Linked DNA regions of Homo sapiens. The protein of the gene in region 1 interacts with the protein of each later gene in a biochemical or structural test. Each region holds a gene or a part of one and is shown in the gene's direction. Other genes may lie near its edges.

Region 1 (7,513 bases):
CATTATGGGACTCTTCACCAATTTATAATTTTTTGTAGCAGTTACACAGGAACAGTATTCAGTTTACTGATGGATATGAAGTAAAAGAAGATATTGGAGTTGGCTCCTACTCTGTTTGCAAGAGATGTATACATAAAGCTACAAACATGGAGTTTGCAGTGAAGGTAAATTTTTTTTATTTAAAATGCAATTCATACAGTTCTTGTTCATGCATGTCAGTACCAGTTAAAAATTACACTCCCCTTGTTGTTAAAAGTGCCTTTTGTTATAAAAAAGTTAAATATCTGGCTAGTGATCTTCAGAGATCTTAATCTAGAACCCTGTGAGCTAAAGGTAAGGTGGTTATATATCTAGTTTTCCCAGAGCAGTAGCAGTTTACACCTCAAGTGATTTTTTTTCTTTTTTTACCTCAAGTGATTTTTAAAGTATCTTTTTACTCTGAGAAGTCCCCATTTTATGCTCAGGGTGTCAGCAAATTCCTCAAAATTGTGTGCAAAATTTTGTATGTTTACATCTTCTCTGGCAAAAAGTTCATACCTTTCTTTGCATCTAAAAGGATCTGGGAACTAATGAATAAAAACCACTATCATAAAATTCGTTATCATTGGCTGTTTTAATTTCATCAAGTATCCTAAGACAGAATTTTCTAAGCCAAAAACCAAGGAACCTAGCTCTACGATAAAGTTTGAATTTCAAACCTTTAGTCGTAAGTGAACAAGCACTATGTTCAAGTCTCTTTTCACTTCTTGGAATAGTAACCTCTGCTCTCCAATCTCAAGCAATTCAAACAATGTCTAAAGCTTTCAACTTGTTTGAACCTTAGGACTGGTTTATAAATATACATAGCTCATGTTTAGAGAGATAGTGACATTAGTTGTTATCACTCTTCTAAACTTAGATGTAACTGCTTTAAAGTCGTCAGTGTCTATAGGGCTTTCTGTCAGATAGAAGGATGAACCATAAAAATACATTTAATTTGCTTCATTGGAAGGACAATAAAGCTAATTTTAAAGAAGGAAATTCTTAAAAGAAATACATTTAATTTTCTATTTTCCTATTCATTGCTCTTACTGAAATCTAAGATACATAGAAGTTTTCAAATTGCTTACATGAAAGGAGAAAAGACTAATAATGTATTTGGTAGGCAGTTTAAGGATGTGTCTTGCCTCCATAAATACATCATAAAAAGCAGAAATGTCCTGAGGCCCCTTTGAATTACAGAAACCTTGAGGACTATGCCTAAAACCTCAAAAATATCTCCAAGCTATTTGTGGATTTTTGTAACTTAAATGATTCATAAAACCAATCCCAACACAACTGGATTCTACTGAAATTACCACATATTTGAGGTCCACAAGCACAAGTATAGATCTAATGCAAACTGGGCTCAGATTAGCAGATCCATGCCAAAAACGACCCCTCCCAGTGTGTTCTGGTTTTCAAAAGACTAGTCCCAGGTCATCTCTTAAATTAGCATGTCTATTCCATATACCTCTCCTCTTAATCACCCATTTGCCTAATTCCACACTATCATTTGCAGTTGATTACAGTGGGCACCTGTATGTTTACCTTCCCTGTTCTCCAAATACAGAACTGTTATACAAGTACAGTCTACCCTTGAATAACACAGGACTTGGGAGTGCTGATCCCCAAGCAGTTGAAAATCCACGTATAACTTGACTCTCCAAAACTTAACTGCTCATAGCCTACTGTTGACCAGAAGCCTCACTGATAGCATATATAGTCGATTATTTTGTATGTTATATGTATTATATACTGTATTCTTACAATAAAGTAAGCTAGAGAAAAGAAAGTGTTATTAAGAAAATCATGCCAGACATAGTGTCTCACGTTTGTAATCCTAGCACTTTGGGAGGCCGAGGTGGGAGGATTGCTTGAGGCCAGGAGTTTGAGACAAGCCTGGGCAACAGAGCAAGACCCTATCTCTACAGAAAAATTGTTTAAAAATTAGCCAGGCGTGGCTACATGTGCCTGTAGTCCCAGCTACTCAGGAGGCTGAGACGGAAGGATTGCTTGAGCTCAGGAGGTTCAGGCTGCAGTGAGCTATGTGCCACTGTACTCTAGCCTTGGCAACATAGCCAGACCTCATCTCTACAAATAATTTTTAAAATTTTCTGAGTGTAGTGGTATGTGCCTGTGGTCCCAGCTACTCAGGAGGTAGAGGTGGGAGGATCACTTGGGCCCAGGGGTTTGAGGTTGCAGTGAGCCGTGATTGCGCCACTACACTCCACCCTGGGCAACAGAGCAAGACCCTGTCTCAAAAAAAGAAAAAATATATATAAGGAAGAGAAAATACATTTACTGTTCATTAAATGGAAGTGGATCATAATAAAGGTCTTTTTCCTCATCATTTTCACCTTAAGTAGGCTGAGGAGGGAGGAAGAAGAGAAGGAGTTGGTCTTGGTGTCTCAGGGGTGGCAGAAGCAGAAGAAAATCCACGTGTAATTGGTCCCTCATAGTTCAAACCTGTGTTGTTCAAGGGTCAACTATAAATCCATTTCAGATAGAAGACTGGACCCATGCTTGAGAGTTGTAACCTCTTTCCTAGGTTGCTGGAGTGTCTGGGTATTTAGTGCATACTTAATTACTAAGCTGTTTAAAATTGAACATACAAAGGCCACCTAATTTGTTTCAGACTACCCTTTGAATGAATAGAAAGCAAAATTTGTCTTTTTTATATAATATTAGTTGAGCAGATTAAAACATTAAGAAAAATATTTTTAAGGAGCAGCCAATATAAAAGGGTTAGAAAGCTACATTACTATTTTAAAGGGCTTTATTATAATAATTAAACCAAATTCTAACCAAATAAAATGCTAGGTATGATTTTCTATGTAGCTTTCTGCCTAACTTCAAAAACAAGATTGTTCTACTTAGCAGATAATTAGCTTTTATAAGTAGCTTACAGCTAACAGGATATTCAATTGAAGCATTTTATTAAAGGAAGTAAACTTAATTCAATAAGCAGATGCTAGTGGTGGTGTTATATCTAGCTCTTAATTATCTGTATTGATGGGGGGTTAGAAGTTGACTGAGTTCCCAAATGTTTAAGGCCTCAAGGATAGAAGAAAAGATATGTTAACTGTGTTCTTGGTACCTTTTCTCGAGGCTTTTTGAGTTTTTGGTTAAGTCCTAAACTTACTACAAACTTACAAACTTAGATTGGAGAGGCATGGTGGGAATGCGACTCATGAGTTAGAATTTACAGCCTTGCCATCTATATCAAGACTGGCTTTCTGATTAAACAATCTGGCCAGGTAGTTGAATAAAACTGACTGATAAATGGCTTATTTATACACTATTTACATGAGGTAATACCCAAGGTCTGTAGCTATAAACAATTAATGTTTATAACTGTATAGTTGATGAGGTTTTGTGATAAACATTTGCCTTTTAGATTATTGATAAAAGCAAGAGAGACCCAACAGAAGAAATTGAAATTCTTCTTCGTTATGGACAGCATCCAAACATTATCACTCTAAAGGATGTAAGTAGATTCTTTAATATGGATCATTTGAATCAGTTGTCTAACTCACATTGAAAGTAGTGTATTTTCAAAAATCATGTGGTAGACAAAGAACTCATCATAGGCTGGGCACAGTGGCCCACGCCTGTAATCCCAGCAGTTTGGGAGGCCAAGGCAGGAGGATCACTTGAGGCCAGGAGTTCAAGACCAGCCAGGTCAACACAGTGAGATCTCCATCTCTACAAAAAAAAATTTTTTTTTAATTAGCCAGGCCGAGCACAGTGGCTCACACCTGTAATCCCAGTACTTTGGGAGGCTGAGGCAGGAGGATTGCTTGAGCCCAGGAGTTCAAGACCAGCCTGGGCAACATAGGGAGACCCTGTCTCTAAAGAATATTTAAAAATTAGCCTGACATGGTGGCTCATGCCTATAGTCGCAGCTACTCTGGAGGCTGAGGTGGGAGGATTGCTTCAGCCCGGCAGGTCAAGACCTCAGTGAGCAGTTATCGCACCACTGCACTCCAGCCAGCGCAGCAGAGCAAGACCCTGTCTCAAAAACAAAAACAAAACAAAACAAAATTCAACATGGTAAGTTTAAAAAGTAGATTTGAAAACAATTTATATGTGTATATGGCATAATTTCATTTATCAATAAAGATATGTTTGTACAGTTATTTTTTTCTACTTTTGCTTTAAGAAGAAAAGTACTTACGATATTATTGCTTTTAATATCTGCACTTACTTGAACACTTACCTAAATGTTCAGTGTTAATATTACTATTAGTTCATATTCAATATTGACTAGTCTCACTCTCCAGACTACCCCAAAGTATCTTCCACATTACTAGAAAAGAGATCTAACACTCATAACTACCCATTTAACTTCCCTGCCTACAGTCTAAAGTCCCCAGCCGCTTAAGACCCTGCCTTCCTCTGTAGTTTTCAGACTTCTCACACACCCTTTCTCATACACCTGATGCTCTGTGTTCTAGTATGTAAATTTCTTGCGCATGCCTCATTTTCCATGCTGTTATGTCTGAATTTATAGTTCCCTCAGTTGCCAACACCATCTATTTTCTTTACCTGGCTAACTACCACACATATAAGATTTTGCTAAGGCACTGCTTCTTCCAGGAAGCCTGCCCTGCCCATTGCCACCCCCAGGACAAGTAAAGTATCTTTCCCTGGACTGTCATGATAACCCTGTTGCCTATGTCTCTCTTGACTTTTATTATAACAAAGTGTTGGCAAACAGTGTGAACTCCCCAGGTAGTGTTAAGTCTTCTCTTGCTAATGATGCTCAATAGGCCCAAAGGCCTTATCTGGGGGTTGTCAAAACTCAAATTTCCTCAGATTATCCCTGCTCATGGAGACACAGCAAAAGCTCGTCTCTACAAAAAATGCAAAAATTAGCCAGGTGTGGTGGCATGCGCCTATAGTCCCAGCTACTTGAGAGGCTGAAGTGGGAGGATCGCTGGAGCCCAGGAAGTGGATATTGCAGTGAGCCAAGATTGTGCCAGTGCACTCCTGGGCGACAGAGTCTGTCTCAAAATAAATAAATAAATAAAATTTGTCTTGAATATGAAGTGAGTTTAATTTTTCCTTTATATTTTAAACTTCGTTTTGGGCACATATAGTTTCAAATAATATTTACATTTTGATGTTGAAATTTATAGGTATATGATGATGGAAAGTATGTGTATGTAGTAACAGAACTTATGAAAGGAGGTGAATTGCTGGATAAAATTCTTAGACAAAAATTTTTCTCTGAACGAGAGGCCAGTGCTGTCCTGTTCACTATAACTAAAACCGTTGAATATCTTCACGCACAAGGGGTAAGTCTTTTTACCACTCTATATGTACATACACACACTTTTTTCCTTTATGTTTGAGCTAGAATTAGATAGAAATTACTTTATGCCTGAAATGGAAAATAACTGCTATTAGCTGAATTATCCTACTGACCTTCCTCTATATAAACTTTTATTATTGAGATTGAAGTGTACCTTTGATATCCTAGCTTGTTTATGTTAAACTCTTGTGCTTCCAAGAAAAAGTAAGTGATCTCTTCCGACCTGGAAAACATAGCATTGTTTCTGCTAGGTCACTCTGTACTCATGAAAACCAGGCCCACTTCAGGTTAGAAGCAGAACCAAGGAATCCTGGTTTGTATTCATGTATAAAAGGAAATCCTTAAAACAATGAGGCCAAGGAGTCACATGCTTCGGCTGGTGGATATGCTCTTCGTTCTTCTTGTATGCAGATTTTTAGTAAACAGCAAAAGAAAATTGTATTTCTAGGCTGGGCACGGTAGCTTATGCCTGTAATCCCAGCATTTTGGGAGGCCGAGGCAGGCAGATCACTTGAGGTCAGGAGTTCGAGAAAATCGTATTTTTAAAACAAGGCGGCCGGGTGCAGTGACTCACGCCTGTAATCCCAGCACTTTGGGAGGCCAAGGTGGGTGGATCACCTGAGGTCAGGAGTTTGAGACCAGCCTGGCCAACATGGCGAAACCCTGTCTCTGTTAAAAGTACAAAAATTAGCCGGGCGTCATGGCTCATGCCTGTAATCCCAGCTACTCAGAAGGCTGAGGCAGGAGAATTGCTTGAACCCGAGAGGCGGAGGTTGCAGTGAGTTGAAATTGCACCACTGCACTCCAGCCTGGGCAACAGAGTGAGACTCCATCTCAAAAAAAAAAAAAAAAAAAAAAGAAGGGAAGTCTGGGAGGAAAGGAGAAAATGAGGGGAGGGAGGGAGGAAAGGAGAACAGCAGAGGAGTGAAGCAGAGGAGCAGAAAGCAAGGGGAAAATAAACAATTTTTTAAAAATTTTTTAGTTGACAAATTATGTATATTCATGGTATACAACATGATGTTTTGATACATGCATATATAAAAGATTACTTCTTAAGGAGTTCAGTTTCAATACATTCTTTTTGTTTTGTCTTTGCCCCTGAAAGCCAAGTAGAATGTGTTAATTCTGGAGCTTCCTGACTTCTAACTTATCAAGATTTGCCTAGTATTGTAACTTGAAATTAGTAGAACTCAGTAGTCACTGAGGAACTTATGACCTTGCAGTCATCAAAGTCTTCTGTGTTCTTTTCCCAATGCCTCATCAGTAATTCGTTATTAAAATAGTCTGGAGAAGTGATGTCCTGGATGTGAGGAACTAAATCTAATTTGATTGATTGGAACACAGACTCAGAATTTGGTGACAGAAGGCACACTTAAGTCTAAAAAGGAATGTCAGAGAAGCTTATGATAAAAAAGTACAGTAGTCCCCCACTAATCTGCAAGTTTGCTTTCTGTGGTTTCAGTTACCACAGTCAACCATTGTCAAAAATATTACAGTATTTTGAGAGACCACATTCATATAACTTTTATTACAGTATATTGTTACAAGTGTTCTAATTTATTATTAGTCATTGTTAATCTCTTACTGTGCCTAATTTATAAATTAAACTATATCATAGGTATATATATCTAGGAAAAAATATAGAGAGACTTCGGTATTATCCTCAATTTCAGGAATCCACTGGGGGTCTTGAAACATATACGCCACGGATAAGGGGGGACTACTGTACTCAGGTAGATCATTAAAAGAGGAAAATAATACAGAACTCTAAAGAAGAGGTTTCTTGCATGTGTAACACCTTGTATATCAAATAGGCAGTACCAAAAATAAAGTCCAGATTTGTTTTGGTTTTTTCCTTTTTACTCCTCAATGCCCTGTCTATTCCATTTAGTCTATCAGAATATATTTGTTGTGTATGTATCTTGTACGTGCTGTTCCTTCTAGTTAGAATGACTCTCCCTTACTGTTCTTATGGCTCATTCATTCTGTTCTTCAGCTATTGGATCAGATGTTACCTAATCTAGAGACCCTTCCTGACTGCCCTATTTAAAGTGACCTCCCTAGTTATGTCCCATCTCTCAACCTATTCTCTGCTTCCCCCAGAACTGTGTAAGCTCCTAGCATGGAAAGGCCAGGATCTCATGGGTCTTGTTCACCACGGTATCTACAGCAGCT
Region 2 (6,484 bases), on another chromosome or scaffold:
GAGGTCCACCCCACAGCCTATGGAGGAGCACAGGGGACAGGCCATGTGGGATGAGCCAGTGGACTGGAGGCAGAGGCTGTCGGGGTGAGGCAGGGCCGCAGCCAGGCACCTGCCACCTCTGAGCTCACCTGAACAGAATACTGCCACTGCCTGCCACCTCCTGGGTCATGCAGCAAGTGTCTGGGGAGGGATGTCTGAGGGCACACACGTGGGCACAGCAGCCCTGGGCACTGCCTCCACTGAGCACCCCTGTGGGCAGGTGCTGTCCGCGTCTGGCAGAGGACAGGGTACACGCATGGGCACAGCAGCCCTGGGCACTGCCTCCACTGAGCACCCCTGTGGGCAGGTGCTGTCCATGTCTGGCAGGGGACAGGGCACACGCGTGGGCACAGCAGCCCCGGGCACTGCCTCTGCTGAGCACCCCCGTGGGCAGGTGCTGTCCGGGCCTAGCAGGGGACAGTCCGTCTTGGCCCACACGGCTCATGCAGCAGAAGTAAATTTCACCCAGCACAGAGCGAGGATTCCCAGAAGGTCCTTGTGCCTCCAGCTTCATCAGCTTTAGGTCTGGGATTCTCATTCCTGACCCTCCAGTCTGCACAGATCGGGGAGACACAATGAGGAGTTTTGAGGGAAGCAAAGCAAAGGGTGGGCAGGGCCTGGGAGCGCTGCGATGGCCGCCTGGCCCCCGTCTCTGGGCAGCTTCCATGTGGCTCAGACAGTCCTCCAGCGGCCTGACGGTGACCTAGGGCCCAGCCCTGAGCCAGCCTGGGGAGGACACAGGGGGTCTCTGCTGGAGCAGGTCACCTGGAGGGGGCTCTGACCCTGCGTGAGCACTAGCCCCTCGTGGGGAGCGGACGGGCGAGGGCCTGCGGACCCGCTGGCACAGGCAGACCTGGGCAGCTCCCGGTGAGAGCCCCGAAGGGTGGGGACGTCCTTCAGGGAAGCCCCACGCTGAGCGTGCCCCCTCCCCTACAGCCGCGTCATGACGTACCGGGAGCACACAGCCTGGGTGGTGAAGGCCTCCCTGCAGAAGCGTCCCGACGGCCACATCGTGAGTGTGAGGTGAGGAGCGCCGATATTTAGCAGCCGTTCTGCTGTAAAAACATTATTTTCCCCTCCATTTAAAATACGTCCTTGGTATTTAAACAGCTGGAAGGGGATGGCATTTCGGGCAGTAATTAACTCCTGCCCTGGAACTGGCCAGAAAGATCAGGCGCAGCCCGTAGGGGCCCAGGGGCCACAGCTGCTCCCCTGCTGGGGGACACCTGACCTGCAGGCGCTTTGGGAACTTTCCTGGGCTGCCAACTGCGGAGGGTTCCGGGGGGAGTTGGGCAGCTGCTCTCCCTCCACGGGCAGGGGTGGCAGGGTGGCAGGGGCGGCGCGTCTGCCAGGCACGTGGCAGTTGTCTGCACATAAATTCAGTTCTGCCTCTTGGTAAATACAGCACCAAGAGCAGGGAATATTTATTTGCCTATTAAAGGAAGAGCAAGATGTAATTTATGAATGCAAAGCCAGCATTTCTTCAAAGAGATGCTCTTTTCCCCCTTGTTTGTGATATAAAAACCAAACATAACTCTTGGGATGGACGCCTGCTGGGGGTGGAAGGCAGGAGCCACGGGGCCTCAAAAGGGCCAGGCCATCCCTCTCTCGGGCCACAGCCTGCCATCCAGGCTCTGTCTCCCGGGACTGCAGGCCCCGGTTGCATGAAATCTAATCTCTAGCTGGAAATGAAACCAGGAGCTCACAGCCTCCTCCCGCATCTGTGCTCATGGTCATTTCTCTAGGCCAGAAAGCTCCGCGCCTTTTCTGGCTCTGAGAGAGCTTGTGGGGGACAGCCTTGGCCCTGAGACCAGTATGGGTGCATGTCTGGGCCCCACCTGGGCAGCCCTCACTGGGGACGCTGAGCATCCAGGCAGCTTTTTCCTTGAGCAGTGTGTGTGCAAACAGGTGTGCGACCCCACACACCTGGTTCCACCGTCCCCCTGGCCAGGCCCCTCATGGGGCCTCCGGGAGGAGGTGTCACTGTGACCCTCTCTTGGCAGCGTCAATGGAGATGTGCGCATCTTTGATCCCCGGATGCCTGAGTCGGTAAATGTGCTTCAGATCGTGAAGGGGCTGACGGCCCTGGACATCCACCCCCAGGCGGACCTGATCGCATGGTAGGCGCCACCCACCTCCCTGGCCTGCACCGCTCACCCGCCTCGGGCCTCTGTGCAAACGGGAGGCTCTTGTGTTCCTGCCCCCAGGAGCTGAAGGAGGGCAGGGGAGGATTTCACTGCTGTGGGGACATAAAAACAAAAGATGTCTGCCCACCACATCCTCCCAGGATAAACTCTCAGGGCCCTGCCAGGCCCGAGTCCTCAGTGAGAGTGACCAGAGGGTCACACCTGCCCCGAGCCAGCCTGTCCCCGTGGTCTAGCCGGCCTGTCCCCGCGGTCTCGGCATCTGCGCCCATCTTCCATCCTCAAAGAAGAGGGCAGTGATGCCGGGACCCTTTCTCTCCCCACAGTGGCTCCGTCAATCAGTTCACCGCCATCTACAACAGCAGCGGAGAGCTCATCAACAACATCAAGTACTACGACGGCTTCATGGGCCAGCGGGTCGGCGCCATCAGCTGCCTGGCCTTCCACCCGCACTGGGTCAGTGTGGCGGTGGGTGGGGGTCGGGGGTCGGGGGCTGGGGTAGAGGGATGGGAGGCAAGGGGACAAGGCAGCAGGGGTCCTGCCTGGCTACCCCACACCACAGTGGGGCCCATTGGCTGCCTGAGGGAGGGACTTGCCTGGGTCCCAGGATCTCTAGGGCCCCTGCCCCACCCTGCACTCGCCCCGGAAGCAGAGCCCCAGTCCCGTCACTCCGGGAGGAATTGACACACAGTGGCTGGGGCAAAGCTCCTGCCCTCAGACCCTGCACTAAAGCCATCCCTGGGGACCTCCAGGAGAGTCGCTCGGGGTGTCCATCCCTGTGCGGCCCTCACCCCGTCCCCTGTGCGGCCCTCACCCCGTCCCCTCTGCGGCCCTCACCCCGTCCCCTCTGCGGCCCTCACCCCGTCCCCTGTGCGGCCCTCACCCCGTCCCCTGTGCGGCCCTCACCCCGTCCCCTCTGCGGCCCTCACCCCGTCCCCTCTGCGGCCCTCACCCCGTCCCCTGTGCGGCCCTCACCCCGTCCCCTGTGCGGCCCTCACCCCGTCCCCTCTGCGGCCCTCACCCCGTCCCCTCTGCGTCCCTCACCCCGTCCCCTCTGCGTCCCTCACCCCGTCCCCTGTGCGGCCCTCACCCCGTCCCCTGTGCGGCCCTCACCCCGTCCCCTCTGCGGCCCTCACCCCGTCCCCTCTGCGGCCCTCACCCCGTCCCCTCTGCGGCCCTCACCCCGTCCCCTCTGCGGCCCTCACCCCGTCCGCTGTGCGGCCGAGTCCTCACCCTGTCCCCTGTGCGGCCGGGCCCCACCTGCACGGCTCTCTGGCCTTGGTTGCAGCCTCCCCACGTGGCTTCAGGCCGTTGTTTTTAGATTAGGATTCTGCCCACCTGCCGCCTTGTGTTGTGAGGCTCCAGGCATGTAGCTCTGCTGACACGTGTGACATTGGATCCCAGAGCTGCCCCGTGGGGCAGTCCTGAAAAAACCACGCAGGGCCCGGGGCAGCGCCACGCCCCTCACGGAGTGCACCATGCATGGGCCCTGCAGAGGACTGGTGGGACCGGCCCGGCATTTCCGGGCCTGAGGTGGGCGTGGGGGTTCCTGAGACCCCGGCAGGAGCTGCCTAAGGATGCGGGTTGGCCTGCGCCCCCCCGCCCCCCGCAGTGTCTGCCCGCACCTGAACCCCTGCTCACCCCTTCTCTCTCCTTGCAGCCTCACCTGGCCGTGGGAAGCAACGACTACTACATCTCCGTGTACTCGGTGGAGAAGCGTGTCAGATAGCGGCGTGACCCGGGCCCACCAGGCCACGGCCGCCTGCTGTACATAGTGAAGCTGTCACTCGCCGGGGCACGGGGCGTCGGCTGCTGCGGCCCCGCAGTGTGAACGTTGGCTGCTGCCTTAGCTGCTGATGACGGCAGGAGGGCCCTGCTACTCGCTTTTGTCTGTCTTCGCTGTCGTGTCTGGAATGTCAGGGAAGGGGAGGGCTCGGGTTGACGGTGGCTTCCCACTGAGCACCAGCATCCAGGTGCACCCCCGCGGCCACGGCGCCTCTGTCCCTCTCCTGTTCTGTGTTTCTCTGAGACGCTGAAAGGGGAAACACCTCACTTTATTTCCATGTAATCAGAGCATTAGCTGCAGAAAAACCCCCCGACAGAGCCCTGGCGGAGAGGCAGGCGCTGGGGCTCCTACGGGTCCCTGGGGCAGCTGTCCCCATCAGGCCAAGAGCGAGCGAGAGGCGCTGCCCCAGCCAGGCCCACCACCTCTCACAGTCAGTGCACGCAAGCAGGGACATTTCCTAGCCAGCTGGGGGACACTGGAAATTCGGGAAACCAAGAGAGAGGAAGAAGGAGACGCCCCTCCAACTGGCGGGTGTGAAGGAAGCCGCCCAGGGGTCCGGGCTGTCCTTGGCCGCTGGCAGCATCACTGAGCAGGAAGCGCACAGCCCACCCTCCCCGCACCTCCAGGTCTCTGGACTCCAGTTTTGGCCCCTCTCACACAGAGCTGTCAGCAGGGGCCGCTGTGGCGGTGCACAGGGGAGGCAGGTCCTTGGCGAGGTAGCCCCTGCCTTAATCCACGGGGCTCCTTTCCCTCCGAAGGGCTGCTCTTCCCCACAGGCGCGGGGACAGCAGCCCGACCTGTGGTCTCCATGCCTGTGCCCTCACACAGGTGTAGCACACGCATGTGCAGATGGCACCACGGCCGGCACCTGGGGGCACACACATGCAGGCGGCGTGGTCTCCCTGCTCTGTCCCCACACGTTCCTCACATACAGGCAAGAGGCACTGCCGGGTCCCGGACGGCTCCGGGTGACACCAGCCCCGTCTCCAGCCTTGAGCCGCCCATGCTGATGCGACCTCGGCTGACAGCTGGGCCTGTGGTGCAGACAGGAGCTGTGTGGACAGTCCCGCCCAGGAGGGGCCGCAGGGCGTGTATGAGCAGTTTTGCAAACAGAACACAACCACAATGATGGTATTTTGAAAAGTGTTCTTTCCGTGTTCGTCGGGAATCAGGATTATTGAGAGGTGAAGGAGCCAGGTGGCTTCATTCTGGCGGTGAGAGGCCCACGACCACGGGAGTGAGAGCTGGTGTGGCGAGGCCCGGCTCTCCTGCGGTGTGGCTGGTGGCCTGCCGTGGCCAAGAGCATCTTCTGGGTGGATGGAACCCTGCCTGGTCACATTTGGCCAGAGACACACCTGGCCCTCAGGGGGCTGAGCTGGAGACTGAGCTGGGGCTGGCCGGGACGTGACAAGGCAGGACAGAGGCGGCCCCTCCGCTGCTCCTTTTTGGAATGCGAGCTCCCACCAGAAGAAGGTTCCGGCACGAATCCCATCCCCACGTCTGGGCCGAGAAAGCAGCCCGGGTCCGGAAGGTGTAGAGAGTCCCGGCCTCACTCAGCTCACAGGGCGTGCCAGGCGGCAACACCAGAATCTTCCAGAAGCCCAGCTCCACCCGCACACGCAGCTTCCCATCCAGTCCTTCAACTCAATTCTTACCCAACACGCGTTTCTGTTTGTTTTGAGACAAAATCACCACCTGTCAAAAGGCAGGTGGCTCCAGAGGGGTCAAGACCCCCCCCCGCCCCCGCTCCACCCTGGAGCCCACCCCCATGGGCACCGCGTGCCGCCTGCACGTGGGCTGTCTTCACAGGTCTGATGTGAAAATTCAATCACGACGTTAACCGGCTCGAGAGAGCGCCGGCCTAGAGGCTCATTATCTATTTATTTTACCAAACGCGAATTGAGACGGACTTTGACAAAACACGAAATGGTAATGTGAAGCTAAGAGCAGAGAGTGACCAACAGTAAACAACACGCGCAGACTCCGCGGCTGGCGGCTGTGTCTTTAAGGAAACTGCCCACCCCACCTCAGGGGGGCATCGGTCAGAGCAGAGCTCTGGGGGGTGGGGGGACGTTGCCCGGGTCCCCCCTGCTGTCCCCAGGGCCACCAGCAGCTCTGCGTCCCGGGTGCTCTCCAGGCAGGCACTGTGGCCACAGGGGGCCTGGCACGTCGAGTGTGCAAAGGTCTCGGTCCTTTTCTCCCAGGCAGTGCCCCCAGCCCTGTGGCGCAGACCCCACATCAGGGAGCGTACTGTGTGGCAAGAGCCATCTTGTGACGTAGGCCAGACACGTGTCTTTCTCTTTAAAATGACGGTTATCCTCTCACGGTTAGAGGCCCCATTCAAGTCTGCATTGAAATCTGGGCCACGTCAGAGTTCCTGGGGGAGAAGCCGCTTCCCCGCTCCTCCCCACTTCTGGAGGCCCCCACTCTCCTTGGCTCGTGGCCCCTTCCTCCAGTTCAGGGCCTCTGACCCACGCCCACCGTCACCACTTCTCATGCAGGCCAGAAGTGTTTC
Region 3 (7,857 bases), on another chromosome or scaffold:
GTGATGATTCAGGGAAGTCATTTCCAAACTGAGGAAAAAGCAAGATCAAAAGTTAAAAACAGGAAAATGAATATCAGGTTCCCGGAAAAGGCAGGTGGATTTTTATGGTTGAGAGTCTAGAGATCACTGAGAATGGTACTAGAAAAGCAGGTTATGAAAAGCCCTGGGGCCAGGGTAGTGGCTCAGGCCTGTAATCCCAGCATTTTGGGAGGCCAAGGTGGGAGAATCACTTGAGGCCAGGTGTTCAAGGCTGCAGTGAGCCATGACTGCCCCTCTGCGCTTCAGCCCGGGCAATAGAGTGAGACCATGTCTCTTTTAGAAAAGAAAGAAAGAAAGAAATGTCCTGAATGCCGAAGAGTTGCTAACTTTATTCTTATAAGCCATGAAGAGCTACCAGTGGTTTTGCACCAAAGGCATAATAGGGAAGTTCAGTGTGGCAAGAGCACGGGAGACAGATTGAAGGGAGAAGGTCTATTTGCCAATCCAACTTTTCTTCCCACTCTCACCTGTCACTATTCTAACCCATAACCCATACCTTCACCTGGACAGTTTCCCTGGCCTTTGGCAGATGAAAGGAAGGGACTGAGAATGTAGGGAAGGATGTACAGAGTCCAGTGAGTGGGAAGACAGATCCTAAGACCCGGGTTGGACTTAGCTTCCGTCCCTGCCTGTGCCATCTCCTAGGCGGATAGCGTATGGATGGAAATGGACGATGAGGAGGACCTGCCTTCTGCTGAGGAGCTGGAGGACTGGCTGGAGGATGTCCTGGAGGGCGAGATCAACACAGAGGACGATGACGATGATGATGATGACTAGTTGCTATGGCAACCATCTTTCAGCCCCACTGGTCTTTTCATGCTCTCTCCTGCCTTCCCTTGTCCTTCCCTGAGTTCCTCCAGGGAGACTAGGTTATTCTCTGCCATAGAGCTAACTGGGGTCTATATGCTGGGTGCTGAGACACTGATCCCCCTCATTTGATGAGCAAATGAGCTACTTTTCCCTAGACACCAGGCCAGCTCTCTCTTATCTGACTTCTGTTTCTTATCCCATAACTTACTTGTATCTATTATGTGTCTCTTCCATCACTCTCCATACTCTTTCTTGTGATTCTCCTCTAGCCATATATATGGGCCCCATCTCTGTTCTGTTCCCTCCATCTATGCACAGCTTTCCCCCACTCTCTCTAATCCTGTATCTTTCTGACTGTCCTGTCCTTGGCCAGAAGGAAGGGAGAATACTGTGTTTGGGACTGTATCTCAGCAATCACTTGTTAATGTATTTGGGTCAAATGAGAGGCCTCAATAAAGACATCTGGGGCAGCATGAACAAGTGTATTTTGGTGAAGTCTCACCCCTATGGCAGGAGGAGGTGGCCACTGATGGGGAATTCAGATGTGGGTGCCTTGCTAGGGATGAGCTGGGGGACTCTTATAGTGGGGACTGGGGTTCCTCCAGGCAGCTTTCCCAGAGAAGCCTGGATTGTTAATCTGCTTCAAGTCAACAAGCCTTTTCTGAACACATGGTGTTTGTCCAGGGCCACTGTTAGGCTCTGGGAGAACAGAGAGTGCTAGGCCTGTCCCTGATCTTGAGCTGATTAGCCTCACGGAGAAGTCAAGACAAGCATACTAAACAATCGAAGAAGAATACAAAGCAATATGTAATTAAGTGATTATGTGCTGCTCGATAGCACCCTCTCTGCAGCTCTTATTTGAACATCAAGACAGAGCTCCAATTATACTTCCTTGGTGAAGCCTTCCCAGAGGTGGCCCCTCCAGTGATGACCTCTTCTGAGTTCCTGCTGCACTTCCATTCCAGTACTCAGCACAGTCTGTTATTGTTCTTCATTTACGTGTCTGTCTTCCCCACTCAACTGTGAGCCCCTTGAAGGCAGGAACCCAAGCTTTTTCTTTGTGTCCACAGGGTCTGACACTCAAAAGTTGTCCCTAGTAAATGTTTCCTAAAGGAAGAACAAAGGAAAGAACAGAATGAACTCAGAAGAGAGATCAGAGTGGGCTTGATGACTTCACAAAGGAAGTAAGCCTTTACTAGGCCTTAAATTGAAGAATGGGATTTGGTTGGAGACAAAGGAGCTGAGGAGGAGACATTTCAGTCAGTGGAAAACATCAAGTACTGGCAGGATATGTTTGTCATATTGGGGGCACAGAGACCAGAGAGACAAGAAGAAAAATCAAGTTGTGGCCATGAAGTTGGGTAAGCATAATGGGGCTGGGTTGTAGAGCTGTTTGAATTGAATCCTGCCAGCCGAGGAGGCAGGGCAAAATTTAATCTGGTAGCGATAAGCAGGATGGGGAGGGGAGATGATGGAGATGCCAGAGGTAAGGGGCCCAACCCATAATCAGTGACTGTTATAATAATTGGAGTGATGTTGGGAGAACATGGACCCAAGTGGTGGCCATGGGAATGGAGAGGAGATATTGTATACAATGGGGATCTCCCAGACCTGGGCCTGCTGGAGGTCTTGGCAAGAAGGACCCACAGTCTTTCCAGAATAGGCCCAGGCTGGGGTAAGCAAAAAGGAGTTTAGGGAGTTGGGGATGGGAGGGCCAAATAGCTAAATAAGCCCATAAATAATAAACATATACATATATAGTTTTGAGATGATGCCCATGAACAATAAACATTTTATATATATAATATATACAAATAGCTAAACAAGCCCATAAATAATAAACATTATATATATATTTTTGAGATGATGCCCATAAATAATAAACATTATATATATATACATATACATATATATGTGTGTGTATATATATATATTTTTTTCTTTTTTTTTTTTTTTTTTGAGATGGAGTCTCACTCTGTTGCCAGGTTGGAGTGCAGTGGTGAGATCTCGGTTCACTGCAACCTCCGACTCCCGGGTTCAAGAGATTCTCCTATCTCAGCCTCCCAGGTAACTGGGACTACAGGTGCCCACCACCACACTCAGCTAACTTTTTTGTAGTTTTAGTAGAGATGGGGTTTCACCATGTTGGTCAGGCTAGTCTTGAACTCCTGACCTCAGGTGATCCACCTGCCTCAGCCTCCCAAAGTGCTGGGATTACAGGCGTGAGCCACCACGCCAAGCCAACATTATATTTTTCATGGATCAGGTGTAAAGTTGTTGCTGAGAGACTTAGAGGATTTCTAAGTACGGAAAGATGAGACCTGAGATTAGATATATTTTCACTCTCCACAGACAAGTCCAGGAAGTGTTCCTAGAGAATGTGGCAGGGGTGTAGAAAGCAGAAACTATGTATTCATTCCAACTTGTAGCTATTTAATAAATGTTTAATAAGTAGTATGGGCACTAAGCTAGTCTTACAATAATATTGTGGAGCTTACTGTCTAGCATAGGTCAGTGGAAGGCCCCGGTCTAAATAATAGCTCCTATTTTTTAAGCACCCATCTGTGCCAGTCCCTAGAGACTTACTATTTCTGAATCTCAGAAGAACCCTCAGAAATAGACATTGGCACCCTGATCTGACCGGTGAGGACACTAAGGCTTTCAGGCATAACTTGCCCAAGGAATGGGTGGAACTAGCACGCAGCCCAAGGCCCCTGTGTCTTGTTGCCTCCAGACCTGAGCCTTTCACTTAGAAACTACATGAGTCTCAAAGATGGGTCAACGAAATAGTTTTTGTCCCTACAACACAGAGCAAACATGATATATACAAAGGCAAATGATTAGTGTGTGACAGGGAATGCTGGGGAGAGGAAACAGCAGAGAAATGCTATGAAACCCAGAGCAGCAGGAACTTGGGCCTCTTCTAGGAATGGTGTAGACCCAAGAAAGGAGGGGCTCGTTTGAGGTTTCTGGAGGAGTCTCTGCCAGGTAGGAACTGAGATGAGATGGGTGATCCTGGAAGTGGCACAAACACTGAGGGGAATCCCCCAACCTGGGCCTGCTGGAGTTCCTGGCAGGAAGGACCTACCCAGGGTCAGACTTCTTTCCAGGGCCAAACCCTGCCCAGAGCTGAGGCAAGACCCCTTAGGCTATAGAGATGGGGGTGAAAACAGATGCTTCTCCAATTCTTCCTTTCCTCTTTTCAGTCTGGCTGAGAATCTGGGGGAGGAAAGTCCCTGGGGTAGAGGGGAAGTGAGAGCTGCCACATTGGGCCTGGGCAGAGGGGCAGAGCTAGGAGATGGAGCTAAGTGTGGCTTTGCAAGTTGTCTATATTTGCATGCTGAGCTCACTGCTGCTCTTTTTCTCCCCAGAAAATAAAATTACATCATGGTAGGGGGAAGGCAGGAGTGGGGCATGTTTGGGAAAGGTGAGAGGCACGCAAGAGGGCCTGAAGGCATCATCCTGGAAAGAGAAGATCCAGGGCTCCTCAAGTCCCCATGTGGCCCCAACCCCTCACTCCCAATGTGGATAAGTCTGATCAGTCATTTTCCACTGCGCCCCTGACCCTTAAGGCAAGGCAAGAAGTTTTTACAAATATTAAAGCCAGCAGCTAAGAGAATCCAGCCCCCAAAGGCTTTCCAACCCCCTAAACCAAACCTACTCTGTGCCTCCCAGGGGTCCTAGGCACCGTGGTCATCCAAAGGTCAAAAGGGGAGGAGGGTGCCCTACTGGGTAAGAATTAAATATGAGAATTGTTTCGCAGTTCAGGGGGAAGAGACCGTCTCCGCTCCAGCCCTCCGCCCAATTCTGTCCCCCATCCTAGGAGTCTTCCAGAACCCCAGCCCCTCGGTCCCCCGCCCCCTCCTGCCTCTCCATCCCTCCCCCTCCTCCCGCCATTCCCCGCCCCCCGCCCCTCCCCGGCTCTGACATCACCGGCCAGCCGGGTGGAGTGAGCGGCGCTGGGCTCGGGCTCCGGCTCCGCGGGCGGAAGAGGCGGCGGCGGCGGCAGAAGCGGCGGCGGCGGCGGCGGGAGCCGAGGAGGAGGTTCCGGACGCTGCTTAGGAACCGGGGACTCAGGAGTGCCCGCGCCCTGAGCGCTCAGCTCCAGAGGCGGTGAGAGGGGCGGAGAGGAGACATGTCGCGGGGAAGGGGCAGATTTCGGGGTCTAGGCTTGGAGGGGCAACGATCTGGGACACCGGGGGCCAGACGGGGAGTGTGGGGACCCCGGACGAGTCCACTTTGTGTCAGGCCTCACGGGGTCCGTCCCTCGGTCGGTGCGTCCCGAGCGCCGAGCGTGTGCTGGAGGCGGCGTGGCTCCGGCCAGCCCGTTCCACGCTGAACGGCAGTTTGGGAGTCGGACCGGGGCCTGTGGATTAGGATGCAGCCTGCTTCCCGCCCAGCCGGCTCGGCCAGGCCAGCGCCCGCCCCTCCCTCCCCGCTCAGGCTTCGGACTCGCCTCCGCTGGCGGTCTCCCGGCCCAGCCCTGTCTCGGTTCCGCGGGCGGCTGGTACCATGTGCCCTCACCCCCAGCTCACTGCACCTGGGGAAGAGGTGGGCTTGGCGGAAAGCTTGTCCAGAGGGAAGGAGGAGCTGGGGGTGTAGAGAAGTGATGTATATCTAACGTAAAAACCCTTATTAATTTCATATAATCCGTGTCAAAACTGACAGGGAAACACGCACACCTATAAGGCACGCCAGCACACACAGTGACACACACCCATGTGACTTATACACATAGTCTAGCACACTCCAAATCACAAACGTCCCTGGACTACGCATCCGGCCGCCCACCACACCCCCACTCTGTGGGGTGGGGCATCCCATGAGGAGTCTTCTGAACTGCGGGCTCCAAGTCATCAGTCCGACAGGACAGCTGAGTGGACAGAAAGGGCCACTGTCCCCAAATCCATCCTGATTTTCTGGCAGCTTTTCCCAGCCCCATGGTTTCAGATTGTTCCTCTTTAAAACTGTGGGGAAAGATGGGAGAAAATCTTGGTCTCATTCCTCTAACACAAGGAGACAGGATTTTGCGGACTAATGAGGGTAGGGGCTTCTGGTGGCTTCTCTTCCTGGGTCCAGTTAGGGCTTAGCGTGCTGGGAGTGGCTAGTTTCTGGGTAAGAGTGGCCAAGGGATGGAGGAGGAGGGGGTGGAAGAAACGGAGAGGAAAAAGAATGGGTATGAGTCAGCCAAGAATGGAACCCAAGTCAGAGAGAGAATGAGAGGAATGTGTGTGAGAAGCAGACAGACATCTCCAGAGAGGTCTAGAGATAGTCAGGGAACCAGGGAGAGGGAGGAAGTGAGAGAAAGAGATGGTCAGAGAAGTGCAAACAGTGTTTGAGAGTGCACTAAACAAATTAGGGAGGATGAAGGTTGGGGGAGACCACTGGGAGTTAGGGAAAGTGGTACGTGTGTCTGGGCCCCAGGCTGTCAGAGCGATTAGCTTTAATTGCTCTTCCCTTTGTGGTTAAATACTCCATTGGGGAAATTGCCAGTGATGCCCTAGGCTGCAGGCTTCCCTGGTTGCCTACTTCCTCAATTCCGTGCCCATCATGTGTGGATGTATTATCATGCATGAAGAGGGTCACAGAATCACAGAGCGCCTCACTCTCTCACACAGATCCTCACGCACAATGTCATGATGGATATCTTCACCAGCTGGTAGGCAGCCAACCACTGAATCTCCAAGCCACTCCGACCAAACTTACTCTGTCTTTTGTAGCAGGGATGCTCACCCCTTCCTAATTGCAGCTCCGAATATTCAGATGGGGACAGTGAAGCACAGATCTCAGGAGTCCTAAGTATTCATGGCTACCACTAAGTTGGATAGGTGAGTAGGAAATGCTAGAAGGGGTGAAAGCCTATAGAAAGGAGGAAAAGAGAGACTGAAAGATGAAGTAGAAAGGAAATGCATGACAAAGAGTGAGAGAGATGGAGAGAGACAGAAATAGAAGCAGGGAGTGCCACACCAGAAGAGTGGAAACAGAGATGGGCTGGGGAGAGTCCTAGGCCCCATTCCCCTCCTCGCCATCAGCCGGCCCTCCTCTGCTCTGCCTGATCCAGTGCCAGCTATCTCCTGATGCCCCATCTTGGGTCTGGCTCTTTCTAGACCAAGGGCTGAAGGCTAATCCTTGTCCCCATGCCCAAAGGTAATCCATTTTGCTTCTTGGACTGAAGTGAACATTTTAGGGCCCAGATGTCCTGCCTCTCGTCACTTCCAGGCTGACCCTGGAGCCTCAGAACCCTCAATTTCCTTGTTACAGGAGTAAAGACAACCCCCTCCTCCCCCACAAAGCTGGATAAAAAGCTTAAAGAAGAAATTAATTGAGAATGATATTAAAGGAAATAAACTACAGGACTGCTTGAATTTGGGGCCCAGTTATAATTTAAAATAGGAAAGCTGGACCCCTACTCTCTCCCTTCCAACCCCTCTGCCTCTCCGTGATTACTTCCAACTTCAGGCAGAAGACTGACAGACTTGAGTGCCTGGGAGTCCCCTCCTGCCCAATACAGGGACCTCTAGGTCCTTGCAGCTGTCTGGGATGGCCCCTCCCCTCAGGCTTAGGCAGCTGCAACAGATGTGGAAGAGGGACGGGCAGCAACTCTTAATCTTCAGGCTTCCTTCTCGAATTTACAGAGGATTTGGAACCAAACGTTAGAAGGGATAATCTACCACGACTTAATGTCAAAATGCACAGAAATTCTTTTGGTGCTGCCACCTCCTCCACAGGTGGTTATCCCAATTGCCAGGCTTCTCAAAGCACTCCCAGGGCCTGGCTCTTCTTACCCCAGTGCCCATGGAGCTCCCACCTGTCCCACCCTAAAAGGTCAGTATATAATGGTCCTTACCTCCTGCCCCTCTTCCCCAGCATCCTCAGTTGGTTTGACCTTTGTCAGGGCTGTGCCTGGGGCCAGCTTGGAAGGAGAGGGAGGCAGGAAGGAAGGAAGGTGTGAGGAAGCGGTGAGCCTAGCACAGAAAGCTGGGAGGGAAGAGGACTGACTTCCTGGCA

What was found. Proteins that work in one complex are often made in the same cells at the same time.
Region 2: of the proteins of RPS6KA3 (region 1) and RPTOR, one has a biochemical effect on the other in vitro, tested with the Homo sapiens proteins (one study listed by BioGRID).
Region 3: the proteins of RPS6KA3 (region 1) and PEA15 form a complex in vitro, tested with the Homo sapiens proteins (2 studies listed by BioGRID).

What each region holds. Positions count from the first base shown.
Region 1 is NC_000023.11:20,165,397-20,172,909, reverse strand, and holds part of RPS6KA3 (ribosomal protein S6 kinase alpha-3), read left to right. Parts: intron 1-38; coding exon 39-164; intron 165-3,418; coding exon 3,419-3,508; intron 3,509-5,162; coding exon 5,163-5,321; intron 5,322-7,513. UniProt on the Homo sapiens protein: Serine/threonine-protein kinase that acts downstream of ERK (MAPK1/ERK2 and MAPK3/ERK1) signaling and mediates mitogenic and stress-induced activation of the transcription factors CREB1, ETV1/ER81 and NR4A1/NUR77, regulates translation through RPS6 and EIF4B phosphorylation, and mediates cellular proliferation, survival, and differentiation by modulating mTOR signaling and repressing pro-apoptotic function of BAD and DAPK1.
Region 2 is NC_000017.11:80,960,419-80,966,902, forward strand, and holds the end of RPTOR (regulatory-associated protein of mTOR), read left to right. Parts: intron 1-975; coding exon 976-1,062; intron 1,063-2,042; coding exon 2,043-2,159; intron 2,160-2,509; coding exon 2,510-2,639; intron 2,640-3,843; coding exon 3,844-3,912; 3' UTR 3,913-5,950; downstream 5,951-6,484. UniProt on the Homo sapiens protein: Component of the mechanistic target of rapamycin complex 1 (mTORC1), an evolutionarily conserved central nutrient sensor that stimulates anabolic reactions and macromolecule biosynthesis to promote cellular biomass generation and growth.
Region 3 is NC_000001.11:160,200,561-160,208,417, forward strand, and holds the start of PEA15 (astrocytic phosphoprotein PEA-15), read left to right. Parts: upstream 1-4,823; 5' UTR 4,824-4,962; exon of another isoform or gene 4,963-7,857. Other genes in the region: CASQ1 (calsequestrin-1 precursor), read left to right, coding at 685-816. UniProt on the Homo sapiens protein: Blocks Ras-mediated inhibition of integrin activation and modulates the ERK MAP kinase cascade. Inhibits RPS6KA3 activities by retaining it in the cytoplasm. Inhibits both TNFRSF6- and TNFRSF1A-mediated CASP8 activity and apoptosis.